2 separate regions of the Homo sapiens genome follow, and region 1 is linked to region 2. The links come from fine-mapping of genetic effects on gene expression. Tissue or cell type: minor salivary gland. Region 2 holds a variant in brackets; the other region holds the start of a gene. All regions are shown on one strand. Distances are between the middles of the regions.

What was found. PIP is the estimated chance that this variant, and not a neighbour inherited with it, causes the effect.
Region 1: it holds the start of STYK1, and the variant in region 2 is fine-mapped to the expression of STYK1 in minor salivary gland (GTEx, PIP above 0.99).

Annotation. Positions count from the first base shown.
Region 1 is chr12:10,669,145-10,677,254 of GRCh38, forward strand. STYK1 (serine/threonine/tyrosine kinase 1) reads right to left here and starts at 4,908. Exons shown (of 11, transcript NM_018423.3): 1 at 4,822-4,908.
Region 2 is chr12:10,642,607-10,650,716 of GRCh38, forward strand. All of the region lies in intron 1 of STYK1 (serine/threonine/tyrosine kinase 1), which reads right to left. Among named protein-coding and RNA genes, the nearest start is that of STYK1, 27 kb to the right of the region's middle. The variant A/G (reference allele first, on the strand shown) is at 3,121.

The DNA of each region.
Region 1 (8,110 bases), 27 kb after region 2:
TAGCTAATTCATCTATGAAAATAGCATTGGATCTGCAAGAAATTTTTATAGAAAAATAACCTATAGAAACTAATGGGGCATAAAGGATTAAGCTATAATACTAAAAGTACAAGGGGGAATGGGGAGTAGTTTTTAACAGTATATATAGCAAGTACATGGTACCCAGGTTTCTGTTCGATAGGGACACATTTTTTGTTCCATCATTAAGCAGGTTGTTTTTCTTCAGAAAAAAGATTTAAAGTTCTTTGCTTTCTATACACAGCAGGCAAAACATTGAGCCTTCAGAATAAAAATAGATAATATACTCAATAAAGAACACCATGTACAAAAATCAACTCAAAATGGATTAAAGACTTAAATGTAAGATCTGACACTGTGAAAGTACTAGAAGAGAACACAGAGAAAAGGTCCATCATATTAGGCTAGGCAATGTTTTTTTGGACATAAACCCAAAAGCACAGGCAACAAAAGCAAAAATAGACAAATGGGGTTACATCAAACTAAAAAATTTCTGCACAACCAAGGAAAAAATCAACAGAGTGAAGAGATAACCCATGGAATGGTAGAAATATCTGAGAAGTGATTAATATCCGGTAAGTGATTAATATCCAAAATACATAGGGAACTAAAACAATAGGGGGAAAACAAATAACTGTACTAAAAATGAACAAAGGACCTGAATAGACATTTCTCAAAAGAAGACACACAAATGACCAACACATATGTGAAAAAATATTCAACATCACTGATCATCAGGGAAAATGCAAGTTAAAACCAAAATGAGCTATTACCTCATACCTGTTAGAATAGCTATTATCGAAAAGATGAAAAATAAGTGTTGGAGAGGATATAGAGAAAGGGGAATGCTTGCACACTGTTGGTGGGAATGTAAATTAGTACAACCGTTAGGGAAACAGTATGAAAGTTCCTCAAAAAATTAAAAGTAAACTACTATATGATCCAGCAATCCCACTATTCGGTATACATCCAATAGTGATCTGACTTTTGTATATAATGTTCTTTATTCAGTATATTATCTTACTTTTATTCTGAAGGCTCAATGTTTTGCCTTCTGTGTATAGATAGCAAGAAAATGAAATCAGTGTGTCTGATTTCACATACTGCTGTCTGCACGCCATGTTTATTGCAGCATTGTTCACAATATCCAAGAGATGGAATCAATGTAAATGTCCATCAATGGATAAATGAATAAAGTATAAATACATACAGTATAAACACAATGAACTATTATTCAGCCTTTTGAAAAATGGAAATTGACAACATGGATGAACCCAGGAGATATTATGTTAAGTGAAATAAGCTAGGCACGAAAAGAAAAATATCATAGGAACTCACTTATATGTAGAATCTGAAAAAGTTGAACTCATAAAAGTAGAGAATAGAAAGATGGTTACCAGAGGTTGGGGGAATTCGAGGGGTTAGAAAGACGTCAAAGGATATGAAAGGGTATGACCTTATTCCTCCTTGTTAGGAGGAATAAGGTCAAGAGATCTATTGTACAACATGGTGGCTACAGTTAATAACTATGTATTGTATTCTTGAAAATTGCTAAGACAGTAGATGTTAAGTGTTCTCATCACAAAAATATGTGAAATAATACTATGTTAATTAGCTTAATTTAACTATTCCACAATATATACATATTTCAAAACAACATGTATATGATAAATATATATATAATTTTTAATTTTTTTAATTAAACATAAATTTTAAATATACATATAATAAAAATAAAGAATACCCAGTTGGGAAAGCTCAGGTACAGTAGGCAGAATAATGGCTTCCCAAAGATGTCCATGTCCTAATCTCCAGAACCTATGAATATATTGATTTTTTTTTTTTTTTTTTTTTTGACAGTCTGGCTCTGTCGCCCAGGCTGGAGTGCAGTGGCGCGACCTCAGCTCACTGCAAGCTCCGCCTCCTGGATTCACGCCATTCTCCTGCCTCAGCCTCTGATTAGCTGGGACTACAGGCGCCCGCCACCACGCCCAGCTAATTTTTTGTATTTTTAGTAGAGATGGGGTTTCACTTTGTTAGCCAGGATGGTCTCGATCTCCTGACCTCGTGATCCGCCCACCTCAGCCTCCCAAAGTGCTGGGATTAACAGGCGTGAGCCACCACGCCTGGCCATGTTGATTTTTAATAGCGTTGAAATAGCGAAGGGGAATTAAGGTTACAGATGGAATGAATCAACTGACCTTAAAATAGAAAGATTACCCTGGAATACTCAGTGAGTCCAGTGCAATTACAAGAATCCTTAAGTGTGAGAAAGGCAAAAGTGAGCGTCAGCATAAGACATGAGAAACACTTTACCGGCCATTCCTGGCTTTGAAGATGGAGGAAGGGTCCATGAGCCAAGGACTGTAGCAGCCTCTAGAGACTGAAGGAGGCAAGGAAATTGATTCTCCCTTAGAGCCTCCAAAAAGAACCATCCATTTGGAAACCTGCCCATCCATTTTTACTTCTGACCCCCAGAACTGTAAGATAAAACTTTATGTTGTTTAAAGCCACCACCATTGTGGTAATTTGTTACAGTGGCAACAGGAAATGTACACACTCAGGTTAAAAGAAAACAGAGCTGCAGAATCACATAACTCCTGGCAGATCTTCGGAGCACATGTTGGTTGGGACTGGTTGTGAGGGTTTGGGACAGGTGGGAAATAGTTTCTGCCAGAGAAAACTGAAATACATGCAATGCTCAACTAACTTGTGCATAATTAAAGACATTAGTTGTTAAAGGGTTGAACTGTACACCCTCTCAAAATTAATATGCTGACATTCTAACCCCCAGTAACTCATAATGTAACTTTATTGGGAGATGATAGTGCAGAGATAATCAATTAAAATGAGGTAATTAGGATGGACCCTAATCCAATAAGACTAGTGTCCTTATAAAAAGGGGAAATTCAGAGACATATATACAGGGAGAACACCATATAAACATCAAGACAGCCATCTACAAGCCAAAGAAAGAGGCCTGGAATAGATGCAGGCTTCATAACATGTTAGTTTTGGATAGCCAGCCTACTGAACTGTGAGAAAATCATTTCGTTGTTTAAGCCAGAGGTCACCAACACCCGGGGCGCCGACAGGTACGGGGTGCACAGCAGGAAATCAGAGGCAGGTGAGCCAGCAAAGCTTCATCTGCATTTACAGCCACTCCCCATCGCTGTCATTGCCTCCTGAGCTCCTCCTCCTGTCAGATAAGCCACGACATTAGATTTTCTTTCTTTTTCTTCCTCTTGTATTTTTGGTAGAGATGGGTTTCGCCAAGTTGCCCAGGCTGGTCTCAAACTCCTGAACTCAGGGCGATCCACCCACCAACTCCTCCTAAAGTGGTGTGATTACAGGTGTGAGCCACCGTGCCCACTAGCATTAGATTGTCATAGGAGCGTGAACCCTATTGTGAACTGCTCATGTGAGGGATATAGGTTGCGAACTCCTTATGAGACTCTAATGCCTGATGACGTAAGGTGGAACAGTTTCATTCTGAAACCATCTCCCGCCAACCTCATCGGCATCTGTGAAAAAAATTGTCTTCCACAAAATCAGTCCCTGGTGCCTGGTGCCAAAAGCCATGCAGTTTGTGGTACCTTGTTACAGCAGCCCTAGCAAACTCACACAGTAATGGAGGCACTGAACGAAAAAGTATATGATTTTCATTGAAGCAAATACTTCATGATGTCTCATTGAAAGACCTAGCTGCCCCCTAGCTAGCTGTCAGTGGAGATTCCGGTGCATTGAGGGGGAAAAACCAGGTAGACAGCACAGAGTTCTGTTTCCAGGTGTATTTCAGTTGAGCTGTGCTGCACATTACAGTAACTCGACTCCTTTATTGCCACTACTTCCCACCGAGTGGGAAGGAAGTGTGGTCTCATAGGTATAAGAAACTCCAATGTGGAGAGGACCCATTACAGAAGGAAGCAACAATCGCATAAATGAAAGAAAGAAAGGGGGGATGAAGGGTTGATAGAGAAAAATGAAAGAGGAAAAAAGACATTGAAAAGAAAACAGAGGCTAAAATGGTGAAACCCCGTCTCTACTAAAAATACAAAAAAATAAATAGCCGGCCGTGGTGGTGGGAGCCTGTAATCCCAGCTACTTGGGAGGCTGAGGCAGGAGAATCGCTTGAACCTGGGAGGCGGAGGTTGCAGTGAACCGAGATCGCGCCATTGCACTCCAGCCTGAGTGACAGAGCAAGACTCCCTCCCCCACTCCCCACCCCAAATAAAAAGAAGGAAAGAAAACAGAGATTCAGTCAACAAGGGATAGCACATCAGGCTGTACACTTTTAAAGCATGGTTATTGATATCTCATTTAAATATCGCAACAACCCTGGAAAGTAATTACCGTATTTATGCTTTGCAGATGAGGAAGCCGAAGCTGAAAGCAACGATTCCATGGTCTGAAAGGCTATGCAGTCCTCTGACAAGTAATTCCTGTAACCTCATTCTTTCCCTTCCCCCTCTCCTGATGGCCCCCTCTCCAGGAATAAACAGAGGTCCCCCATTCCTGGGTTTTCTCATGTTTCTCTCTGCACCAAATCTGCTGAGTCAGGTTTACTCCCTTATCATATAGAAACACAGAAGCCAAACCCCACAAGATGCTGGTTCCGAAGAAACACAGGTTAATTCACTTGGTGATTTCTGTTTGTTCACATAAACACCCGTTCCGCTCCCAGCCTCTTCCCTTTTTCTCCCTCCCCAACTGCAAAGTCCTCCCCCAGCTGCCTCGCTGCCATTCCCTTCCCACCTTCTTTACCCTCCCCGCCGCGCCCGCCCCCCATACCCCGTTCACTACCGTGTCCCTCCTCTGGTCACTCCGGTTTCCGATGGCACCGGCCCAGTCGGAGGGGAAATAATGACAGGGTTGGGTAGGGCAAGGTGTGCCAGCCTCAAGGAAATGCTTTTCAGTCCCTCCTTCCCACTGCGGGGCGTGGCTGCCGGCAAAGGATGGAGTTCGGGCGGGCTCCCGCGAAGGGAAGTCTGCGGGCTCCGAGGTTTCCGGGACTCGCCACACTCGAGCCACAGGAAACCTCTGCTGCAACTGTAAAGGCTGGACTTGTTGCTGATCTATACTCATTTCCTACTCTAGTGATTGCTAGATGTCAGGTATCACGGTGACTCCAGTCCAGGTGAAAACGGAGTCACGATACAGGGCAACAGCGCCACCTCACGGCCGGCCCCGTAGCAGCGGCCTCCATTGGCGCCTAAAAATGGTCAGGATTCACATTCAGGTGGATTATTCCGCGCCAGGAACATTCTCCACCTGAAGGCTTTGCCGGGGTGTTACAAGATAATACTGAAGGGACGGGAGTGGTGGCTTACGCCTGTAATCCCAGAACTTTGAGAGGCCAAGGCGGGTGGATCACCTGAGGTCAGCAGTTCGAGACCAGCCTGGCCAACGTGGCGAAACCCCGTCTCTACTAAAAATACAAAAATTAGGCGTGATGGCGGGCGCCTATAATCCCAGCTACTCAGGAGGCTGAAGCAGGAGAATCTCTTGAACCCAGGAGGCAGAGATCGCATAGAGCCGAGATTGTGCCACTGCATTGCAGCTTGGGCGACAGAGCAAGACTCCGTCTCAGAAAAAAAAAAAAAAAAAAGAAAAAAAAAAGTACTGACCACTGCGGAGACGTGGGGGAACCTATAAGGAATTAATGAGAATTAAAACCCCAAGATTACGTAATAGATCATTCATTTAGAGCCCGCGCGCGCGCGCGCGCGCACACACACACACACACACACACACACACATATATCCCATTATGTCCTGGGTTCTCCTCTGGGGAAACAGTGAACAAGGTAGTTATGTTACCCGTCCACATGGAAACTAAAATAATAGAAAATACTTAAGACAATAGATAGCTGAAGGAATTCTGTTAGATATTAACACCTAATACAAATTCAATTAAAGAAATAAGAGTCATAGGTAACTTGAATATGTGACCAATTTATTCAGCATTGAACGCATACCAAACACAAACTGACAGTCATTAGAGCAAAAAGAACTTGAGTCAATGTAATGTGGCATATTTAGAGATTGAGGTATGTCAGTTCTCTAGAGCTTTCTCTATTGGCATTTTCACTTCCTTCAGGGCTTTTTAAAAACAGGATGAATTGTACTTAATGCCACTGAACTGTTCATTTTTAAATGGCTAATGGTTGATTTTATGTTATGTGAATTTTACCTCAAAAGGGGAAAGGAAGACATCTCATCAGTTAGTTGTTCTTTAGATTCTTTATGTCATAAGTGATACATCAAATCCAAATGAACTGATTGGAACTTCATATTATGTAATTTTCTACTCTACCTCCCCAAGCATGCTCCTCCATGACAGATAAAGTGGTTTACTCATTTTTAAAATTTCTGCAATGTATTGCTAGATACTCATTCTGATGCACAGAATTTTGTCTAAAATCTAGTTACTATTATAGAAATAGAAGTTAAAAAAGAAACCAAAATACAATCCAGAAAGGGGAGGCAAAATTTTTCTCTCCAATTTTTTTGAGCAAATCACATAAATTATACATTAAAAACATTTTGAGTTAGAGAAAACACTGGAAATGATAATGCCCACACACAGAAACAACTAAGTACCAAATAGTCTGAGTTACACAGCAGACATTCACCAGGAGTTATATATGTATAGCTAGTCCCACACATTATACTCATTAATAAGATGGTTAGAATATCCATTATTTCTCTTTTTTCTTCAAGTTTTCATTCCCTTGTAATTTCAATTATTACCTCCATCTCAAATTTATAAGCCTCCAACTCATTGTCAACAATGCTTTGGCCCCAGTGTTTCTACCAGATCGTTATTTCTGCCTCATTATTAATTCCATAGGAATTTGTTGAATGCCCATTATCTCTCTGTCCAGATTAAGTACTGAACGGTAGTGGGAAGTCACACTGAAATATACACTGGAGATCTCTTCCTTCTCCAGTTTAGCCTACATGAATCCTAACTGCCAGATCCTGCGCTCCTCTAAACTGTTAAAGCCATCCATCCATGTGTTACTTAGTATATTCCCTCTTGTATGATTCTGCAGTTGTGAGGAAGGAATCTACTGGTTTAGTGGGGTGGAATCTATTTACGGAAGGCATGGAGGAATTCCTGGAAAGTCACTCATTATAAGAAAAAAGAAAATCAAAGCACAAAGGTATTTTCCACTAACAAGAATAGCTTGGGGTTCAGCGCTGGGTCTGCATCTCAATGTCCTTTGGCCAAGCCCGTATGCAATAACAGAGTCCTAGTGAGAGGGGACTCTCAAGTACAACTGGTAGAGTTATTTCACAGAAAAATACAACAGCAACAACAAAACCGTATGAGACCTTGTGTACACAAGGTAGCTTTGCTTTGGAACTGTTTTCAAGGGAATATAACACAAAAGCGGGGCAGGTGAATTCTTCCAACTTTATCTGGAAATGCAGTTCAACTTTCACAAAAGGGCAAGCAGTGGCTACCAGTAGGAGATAGCTCCACATGGGCCTGAGGCTTACCTGAAAGGCTTGCACTGGCACAGAGGATCAGAGTCACTCTGATGAAAATTATAAACAAAGTCAGCAGTAGAGTCACTGCTGCAGCAATGCCTGGCATGTAAATGGAGTTCCCAGGCATTTAGAGAACAATAGACATCACCAGAAGAAATCTAAGACAAGGAAAAGAGTGGATTCTATGTAGCCGCTAGGGTTTGGGATTGTGAAAATTTATGAGGTCCTCTACTATCTTGAGGATCTTCAGGGACAGTTGGGGAAAAGATCTTTTAAGAAACAACAGAGGTTCTGCAACCAACTAAAGGCGGCGACAGAGTATGGGAAATTACTATTCATATGACCTCATGTTTAACCCTGGTTGGTATACCCTAGAGAATATTGATCATTGGTAAGCTTCCATGTATATGTTGTTTCTTTTTACCTTATATATTAGTTTTCCATTGCTAACATAACACATTACCACACACTTAGTGGTCTAAACAACATAAATGTTTTATTTTACAGTTCTGTAAGTCAGAAGTCAACAAAATTCTATGTGGATTAAAATCAAGGTATTAGCAGGCCTGTATTCTTTTCTAGAGGTTCCTGG
Region 2 (8,110 bases):
TTATCTAAATATTTATAATATTTGTGCATGTAAGTATACTCTATGCACAGAGAGGGAGTTAAAGTAATCAAAAAGTTAATGCAGGATTTAAAACTTTTTATACTTCAACTAGGTGTCATTTGATAGCAGAAATAGTACAGCTGCCAGTAGATATCTGAATTTAACAATCATGTTGAGAAAGAGAGATTTAAACCAGATAAATCAAATAGCATAATGCTGTAAAGTAAGGTACAGAAATGGAAAGAATGCTAGATAGTGGTATGGTATTCATCAGGGAAAATATATCAGCACCTGCCTGATTTCTTCTGTCTCTAAATTTTTCAGCTCCTTGTACTGGTTCCGCTGATATCACTTATATGCTGGCTAATTTCCACCCAGATCCTGAACCAATTCTGACGGGGGCATTACGGAGATCAGCAGTCTCAGTCCTCTTCATCCTATTTATCTTACATACTCTCCAATTTGGGGAAGATGTAGCCTTTATCCACTTCCCCAAATCTGCCCACTTACTCATGCCTATTAACAAAACCCTCTCAAATCTGGAGCCCTCACCTGAATGCCACACAAGTCGATGGGGCCGTGTTGTCCTCTCTTTGCCTAAATCAATCCTAAGTGAGATTGAAATTTTACTTTATACTCTGATTACTGAGCTCTTGCTACTAATATAAAAGCCTCCCAGATAAATGCAACCACAATGGTTGAATGCCTCTTTACTGACCATCATCCTGCTCCACTCTACTTCATTCCTATTTCATTCACACCCCTGAACCCATTACCTTTATGTTCTGCTGGCCACACTGAAAACCTGAGTTGCTAATTCTTGCCTGAATTTTGCTCTGTAACTGAACTGTCCATTCAAGACAGCTCTACTTCTTCCACTTCTACAATCTAGTTAGTTTATCTCACATCATTCCTTGGGGGGCCAGCCTTATACCAAGTCATTCACTCAGATGTTAAATAATTAATCATAAAAATTATTAAATATGTTTTGCTATGAAGGAGAAGTTTAGGGTGCTATAAAAACGGGGCAATAGGAAGGAAGTCAAAAAAAGTTTCTTTAAGTAAACAGTATTTAAGCAAATGATAAGTAGGAGCTGACTAGATAAAGGTGGGCACAGCCACAAGGCAAGAGAGGAGGAATATCCAGGCCTTGGATGGGAACAGAGCTTGATACATTCTCATAACTGGAAGGTCAGTGGGCCTGGACAGTAACAAGAGAGGAGAAAACACGAAGAGATGGCACTGTGCAGGTAGGCGAGAGGCAGATCATAATGAGCCTTTAGGCCATGCTAAACATTGCTTGTTTTATTCTAAGTATCACTGAAGTGCTTTAAATAGAGTGACATGGTCCATTTTGTATTTTAGAAAAAAAAAATTATTTGGAATACTACTTAGCAATAAGAAGGAACAAATTATTCCTACATGCAACACTTAGATGGAACTTAAGGACTTTATGCTGAGTGGAAAAAGCCAGTCTCAAAAGGTTACATGCTGTATGGTTCCATCCGTATAATATTTCCAAAATGGCAAAATTAGAGAGACAGAAAATAGATCAGTGTTTACCAGTAGGAACAGGGAGAAGGTGTGACTTTGAAGGGGTAGCATGAGGGAGTTTCTTTATGGTGACAGACAATTCTGTATCTTGACTGTGGTGAAAATTACATGAGTCTATACATGTGATAAAATATCAAAGAACTATGCACAGAGAGGAAAAAGATAATGTGTGAATGCAAAAACTGAAATCCCAGGAAACTCTACATTCTAGTTCATTATACTGTGCCATTGTCAGTTTCATAATTTGGATAATTTACTACAGTTATTTAGATGTTCCCATTGGGAAAATTGGTAATTGTTACATTGGATTCTATACTATTTTTGCAACTACTTGTGAACCTTTAATCATTTCAAATTGAAAAGTAAAAATGAGTATTAGTTTTGCAGCAATTGAGTAATAAATTGCAGGTGATAATAAATACATACGAGAATATCAATTGTGAAACTAATAATTTCATAATCATTTTTTGGATTACAGTAGTGACAGTAAAAAAAAGAAAAATAATGGATTGGAAACCTTGAGGAGATTGAACCAACAGGACACAGTGGTTGTAGAAGGTAAGAAGGAGAAGGAGAAATCAAAGAAGAGGAGATGATGAGTTGTTCTGGACATTTTGATTTAAGATGCCAGTGTGACTTTTAAGTAGAATATTAGAAAAAAGCATTTGGTTGTACAGTTCTTAGGATTCATAAGGGAAGTCTGGACCAGAGATAAATATTTGGGAGTCATTAGATAATATTGAAAGCTTGAAAGTGAATAAGAGAGAAAGAGGAAAAAATGAACAAAAAGGAAAAAGAGAAGAGAGGAAAAGAGGGCCTAGGAAAGAATCCATGGAGTTCCAACGGATAAGGGCTACATGAAGGAAGAGGAATTGGGGTCCAGGGGGAAACTCAAAGAGGGCCTAAGAAGGAAAAACTAGAGAAGTAAAAGGGGAACCAAGAGTTTGTGCTGTTGTGGAAGCAAAGGAGAGGGGCATGGACAACAGCTGGGCTAAAATCTGATGACAGGTCAGGAAAACAATAAGTAGCAGATACAGGCAACATGGAGGTCACCCATCATAGAAAGAATAGCTATAGTGCAGTGGCCAGAGAGCAGGGTGGTTCTGGGAATGAATAGGTGGTGAGGATGTGGAGAAAATGTGTTTAGGGGGCTCTTCTATGATCTTTGCGACCTATATGAATGAGAGGACTGAAAAGAGGAGTTCAGAGAGAGATTTCACAGTTGATTTCTTTGGAAACTTAGGGCTCCAGCAAGATAAGAAAGGGAACTGGTAATACCCCAACATGCAGTAATCTCTCATTCTAAAAAAAACAAAGCAAAGTTTGGTATGGAGAGGCCTGTATCAGGCATAAATGTTTTACAAAGCCTAAACACACACACCCACACACACTGAAAAACAGAGAGATAGATTAATAGAACACATAAGTATCCCAGAAAAAGAGACACATATTTAGGACTTTAATATAAAGAAGTCAGCAAGAATCAAAATAAGCAGATGAGTGGTTCTCAAACCAGAGAGCACATTAGAATCTCCTAGGAGGCATTTTTAAAAAATATCAATCCTG[A/G]TGTTCATTTCCCACTTGATATGGTTTGGCTGTGTCTCTACCCAAATCTCATCTTGAATTCCCATATGTTGTGGGAGGGACTCAGTGGGAGGTAATTGAATCATAGGGCCAGGTCTTTCCCATGCTGTTCTCATGATAATGAATAAGTCTCACAAGATCTGATGGCTTTATAAGGGGGAGTTTCCTTGCACAAGTTCTCTCTCTTTGCCTGCCACCATCCACGTAAGATGTGACTTGTTGCTCCTTGCCTTCCACCATGATTGGGAGGCCTCCCTAGTCACTTGGAACCGTAAGTCCATTAAACCTCTTTCTTTTGTAAATTGCCCAGTTTCATGTATGTCTTTATCAGCAGCGTGAAAATGGATTAATACAGTAAATTGGTACCAGGAGTAGGGTGCTACTGAAAAGACAGCCAAAAATGTGGAAGTGATTTTGGAACTGGGTAACAGGGAGAAGTTGGAACAGTTTGGAGGGCTCAGAAGAAGACAGGAAACTGTGGGAAAGTTTGAAATTCCCTAGAGACTTGTTGAATGACTTTGACCAAAAGGCCGATAATGATATGAACAATGAAATCCAGGCTGAAGTGGTCTCAGATGGAGATGAGAAACTTGTTGGGAACCAGAGCAAAAGTGACTCTTGTTATGTTTTAGCAAACAGACTGGTGGCATTTGCCCCTGCCCTAGAGATCTGTAGAACTTTGAACTTGAGGGAGATGATTTAGGGTATCTGACAAAGAAATTTCTCAGAAGCAAAGCATTCAAGAGGTGACTTGGGTGCTGTTAAAGGCATTCAGTTTTATAAGGGAAACAGAGCACAAAAGTTTGGAAAATTTGCAGCCTGACAATGTGATAGAATAGAAAATCCCATTTTCTGAGGAGAAATTCAAGCCAGCTGCAGAAATTTGCATAAGTAACAAGGAGCCAAATGTTAATCACCAAGACAATGAGGAAAATGTCTCCAGGGCATGTCAGAGACCTTTGAGGCAGCCCCTCTGATCACAGGCCCAGAGGTTTAGGAGGATAAAATGGTTTCATGGGCTGGGCCCAGGGTCCCTCTGCTATGTGCAATCTAGGGACTTGGTGCCCTGTGTCCCAGCTGCTCCAGCTGTGACTAAAAGGGCCAAGGTACAGCTTGGGCTGTTGCTTCAGAGAGTGAAAGCCCCAAGCCTTGGCAGCTTCCATGTGGTGTTGAGCCTGTGGGTACACAGAAGTCAAGAATTAAGGCTTGGGAACCTCTGCCTAGATTTCAGAGGCTGTATGGAAATGCCCAGATGCCTATGCAAAAGTTTCCTGCAGGGGCGGGGCCCTCATGGAGAACCTTTGCTAGGGCAGTGCAGAAGGGAAATGTGGGGTCGAGCCCCCACACAATGTCCCTATTGGGGCACCACCTAGTGGAGCTACGAGAAGAGGGTTACCATCCTCCAAAACCCAGAATGGTAGATCCACCAACAGCTTGCACCATGTGCCTGGGAAAGCTGCAGACACTCAACACCAGCCCATGAAAGCAGCCAGGAGTGGGGCTATACCCTGTCAAGCCTCAGCAGCAGAGCTGCCCAAGACCATGGGAACCCCCCTCTGGAATCACCATGACCTGGATGTGAGACATAGAGTCAAAGATCATTTTGGAGCTTTAAGATTTGACTGGTCTGCTGGATTTCAGACTTGTATGGGGCCTGTATCCCCTTTGTTTTGGCCAATTTCTCCCTGTGGAACAGCTGTATTTACACAATGTCTATATCCCCATTGTATCTAAGAAATAACTAACTTGCTTTTGATTTTACAGGCTTACAGGTGGAAGTGACTTGCTTTGTCTCAGATGAGATGTTGAACTGTGGACTTTTGAGTTAATGCTGAAATGAGTTAAGATTTTGGGGGACGGTTGGGAAGGCAATATTGGTTTTGAAATGTGAAGACATGAGATTCGGGAAGGGCCAGGAGTAAAATGATATGTTTTGGCTGTGTCCCCACCCAAATCTTATCTTGAATTCCCATGTGTTGTGGGAGGGACAAAGTGGGAGGTAATTGAAACATGGGGGCAGGTCTTTCCTGTGCTTGTGAGAGTGAATAAGTCTCACGAGATCTGATGGTTTTATAAAGGGGAGTTTCCCTGCACAAGACAGTTCTCTCTCTTTGCCTGCCATCATTCACATAAGATGTGACTTGCTCTGCCTTGTCTTCTGCCATGATTGTAAGGCCTCCCCAGCCACTCAGAACTGTAAGTCCATTAAACCTCTTTCTTTTGTAAATTGCCCAGTCTCAGGTATGTCTTTATCAGCAGCATAAAAACGGACTAATACACCACTCCTCTTAGAGATTATGATGATTATAAACCCCATAGATTATGACTTCAGATATCAGCTTCAATCAAGGAAATGCTTCCCAGGAGATACTAACATACAGCTGGGGTTGAGAAGTACTAAGATAGATTATTCATCAAATGGAATTTAGGCAATGGACTACTTGTTTGATAACAAAAATTATATTTTTGATTCACCTGTACACAAAATAAATTTTGGGAAAAAAGCTAGATGCTTTAAGAGACATAAAAAACTTAACATTATAAATTATATTGGGTTTGTGATAACTTCCTAAGCTTAAACAAAAAACTTTCTTCCAACAGAAAAAAAAATCACAATGGAAACATCAATCAATAAACAAATAAAAACATAGTACTTTTATAGTAATGAGAAAACCACTAATATGCCAATAAATAAATAGTCAAAAACGTGAAAAACAAAAGTAAATGAGTTCACTGAAACAAAATGTTTAACAAATATGGAAGCATGTTGAACTAAGATGAAAGATTTTTATCTTAACTAGTAATTTTAAAAATACTTTAAAATAAAACAAGATACATTTTTTGCCAATCCATTTAAGACAAAATATTATTTATTTATTTATTTATTTATTTTTAAATTTTTTGAGCTGGGGTCTCACTCTGTTGTCCAGGCTAGAGTGCAGTGATGTGATCTTGGCTCACTGCAGACTTGATCTCCCGGGTGGCTAATTTTTAATTTTTTTGTAAAGATGGGGCCTTGCCATGTTGCCCAGGCTGATGTAAAATTCCTGGCTTTGAGTGATCCTCCCACCCTCAGCCTCCCAAAGTGCTGAGGTTATAAGTGTGAGCCACCACACCCAGCAGAAAAGAAGATTTGAAAACTAATGTTTATTCCCTAAATAGTTTTATTTAAAAATGACTCTTGTAAGACTGACAAGGAATCTGAATGTCTACATTTATGAAAAATAACTTGGCACTATGAAAATTGAGAGCCTGAATGGCATTCATAATTTTGACTCTGTAATTTCTCTCCCAAATGTCAATTATATGTATGTTTTTTAAAAATGGAAGATGTTTCTGAACACACAAGAAAATCTGTGACCCTTATTTAATTTTTTTGAAAATATAAATAGGGATTTGCTTCAAAATATAATTCATGGACTTGAAGGAGGAGAAATAGGTGGAGATGTAAATAAAAAAAAATCAACCATGTGTTCAAAATTGCCAAATTCAGGGGATATACATGGGAAGTCATTGTACTATTTTTGCTGCTTTTGTACATATTTGAAATTTTCTGGAAAAAAATTAAAAATAGAAAAAATAACTAATTTTCATCAAAAGGAGGGATGTTTCAAATTATTTTTATACAGTTGGACCATGGAATACTACACATTTATTAAATTTACGTTCACAAAAATGTTTAATAAACAGCAATTTGTAATGTTAGTGGGTTAAGTAAAAAGGCACATTTTAATGAGGTATATATGGCAAGAGTACAATGAAATTGACTGGGAAAAACACCTGTGTAGGGGAAGCCCAAAGAAAAATATATTAGAATGTTACAGCAACAGTGATGATGGTTACTATTAATAATTTTTTCCTCTATTTTCTATTTTCCAAATGGAATGAATTAAGCCTTAGTTATTTTATAATAAGAACATGCAAAGGAAGAAAGGCTACAAGGCAGAAAAGTTTGATAGCAGAAATACAAAAGAAAATTGGCTGATGGTAACAAAAAAAGACCAAGAGGGAAAACAATCTTCCTAAAGAACTAGTGTTTAGAATTAAAGACAAAGTACAACCGTTAAATCAAGATTAATGGCTTCAGGCCGGGAGCAGTGGTTCACGCCGGTAATCCCAGCACTTTGGGAGGTTGAGGCGGGCGGATCGCGAGGTCAGGAGATCGAGACCATCCTGGCTAACATGGTGAAACCCCGTCTCTACTAAAAAATACAAAAAAATTAGCCAGGCGTGGTGGCGGGCCCCTGTAGTCCCAGCTACTCGGGAGGCGGAGGCAGGAGAATGGCATCAACCCAAGGCGGAGCTTGCAGTGAGCCGAGATCGCACCACTGCACTCCAGCCTGGGCAACTGAGGGAGAGAGAGAGACTCTGTCTCAAAAAAAAAAAAAAAAAAAAAAAAAAAAATCTTGAGTTTAACAAGCTTCATTGTTGCTTGCTAAAGGCATTATCTTGCCGACCTGGGAGAAAGCCAAGTTGGGACTCCCAGGAACAAAGTTAATGTATCATCTCCATCCAACTGTAGTAAAGGAGAAAGAATAAAAGAACCAGTGTCAGAGTTAGGGGTGGATTTATCTTAATCTATTGAAGCCTTGGTTTACTAACCTATACAGCTGAGATAATTCTGCCTGCTTACATCAGAGGATTCTAGTGAGAATTAATAAGAAAGTAAAATTGTTCTTCAGTGATAGTAGCTAAAAGTGCCTCTTCTAGCAAGAATTTATTTGTATAACATAATTACTTTTCAAATCAGTGGTTCCAACTTTGTGCTCCTGATCAAGCTTCCCTTTTTGATTACTACTGCCCCACCCCAGTGGTCTGAAGAGAGTGTGGCTTTCCTTCAACGCATTAGCATAAATGTAGCTAAAATTTCTTTCTTCTTAGCACAGACACAATAAAATGAGAGTTGCCCAAAGACTTGCTAAATGTTAAGTAAATTTGGGAAACCAATTCAGTGAACTGAAAGTGCAGGAGC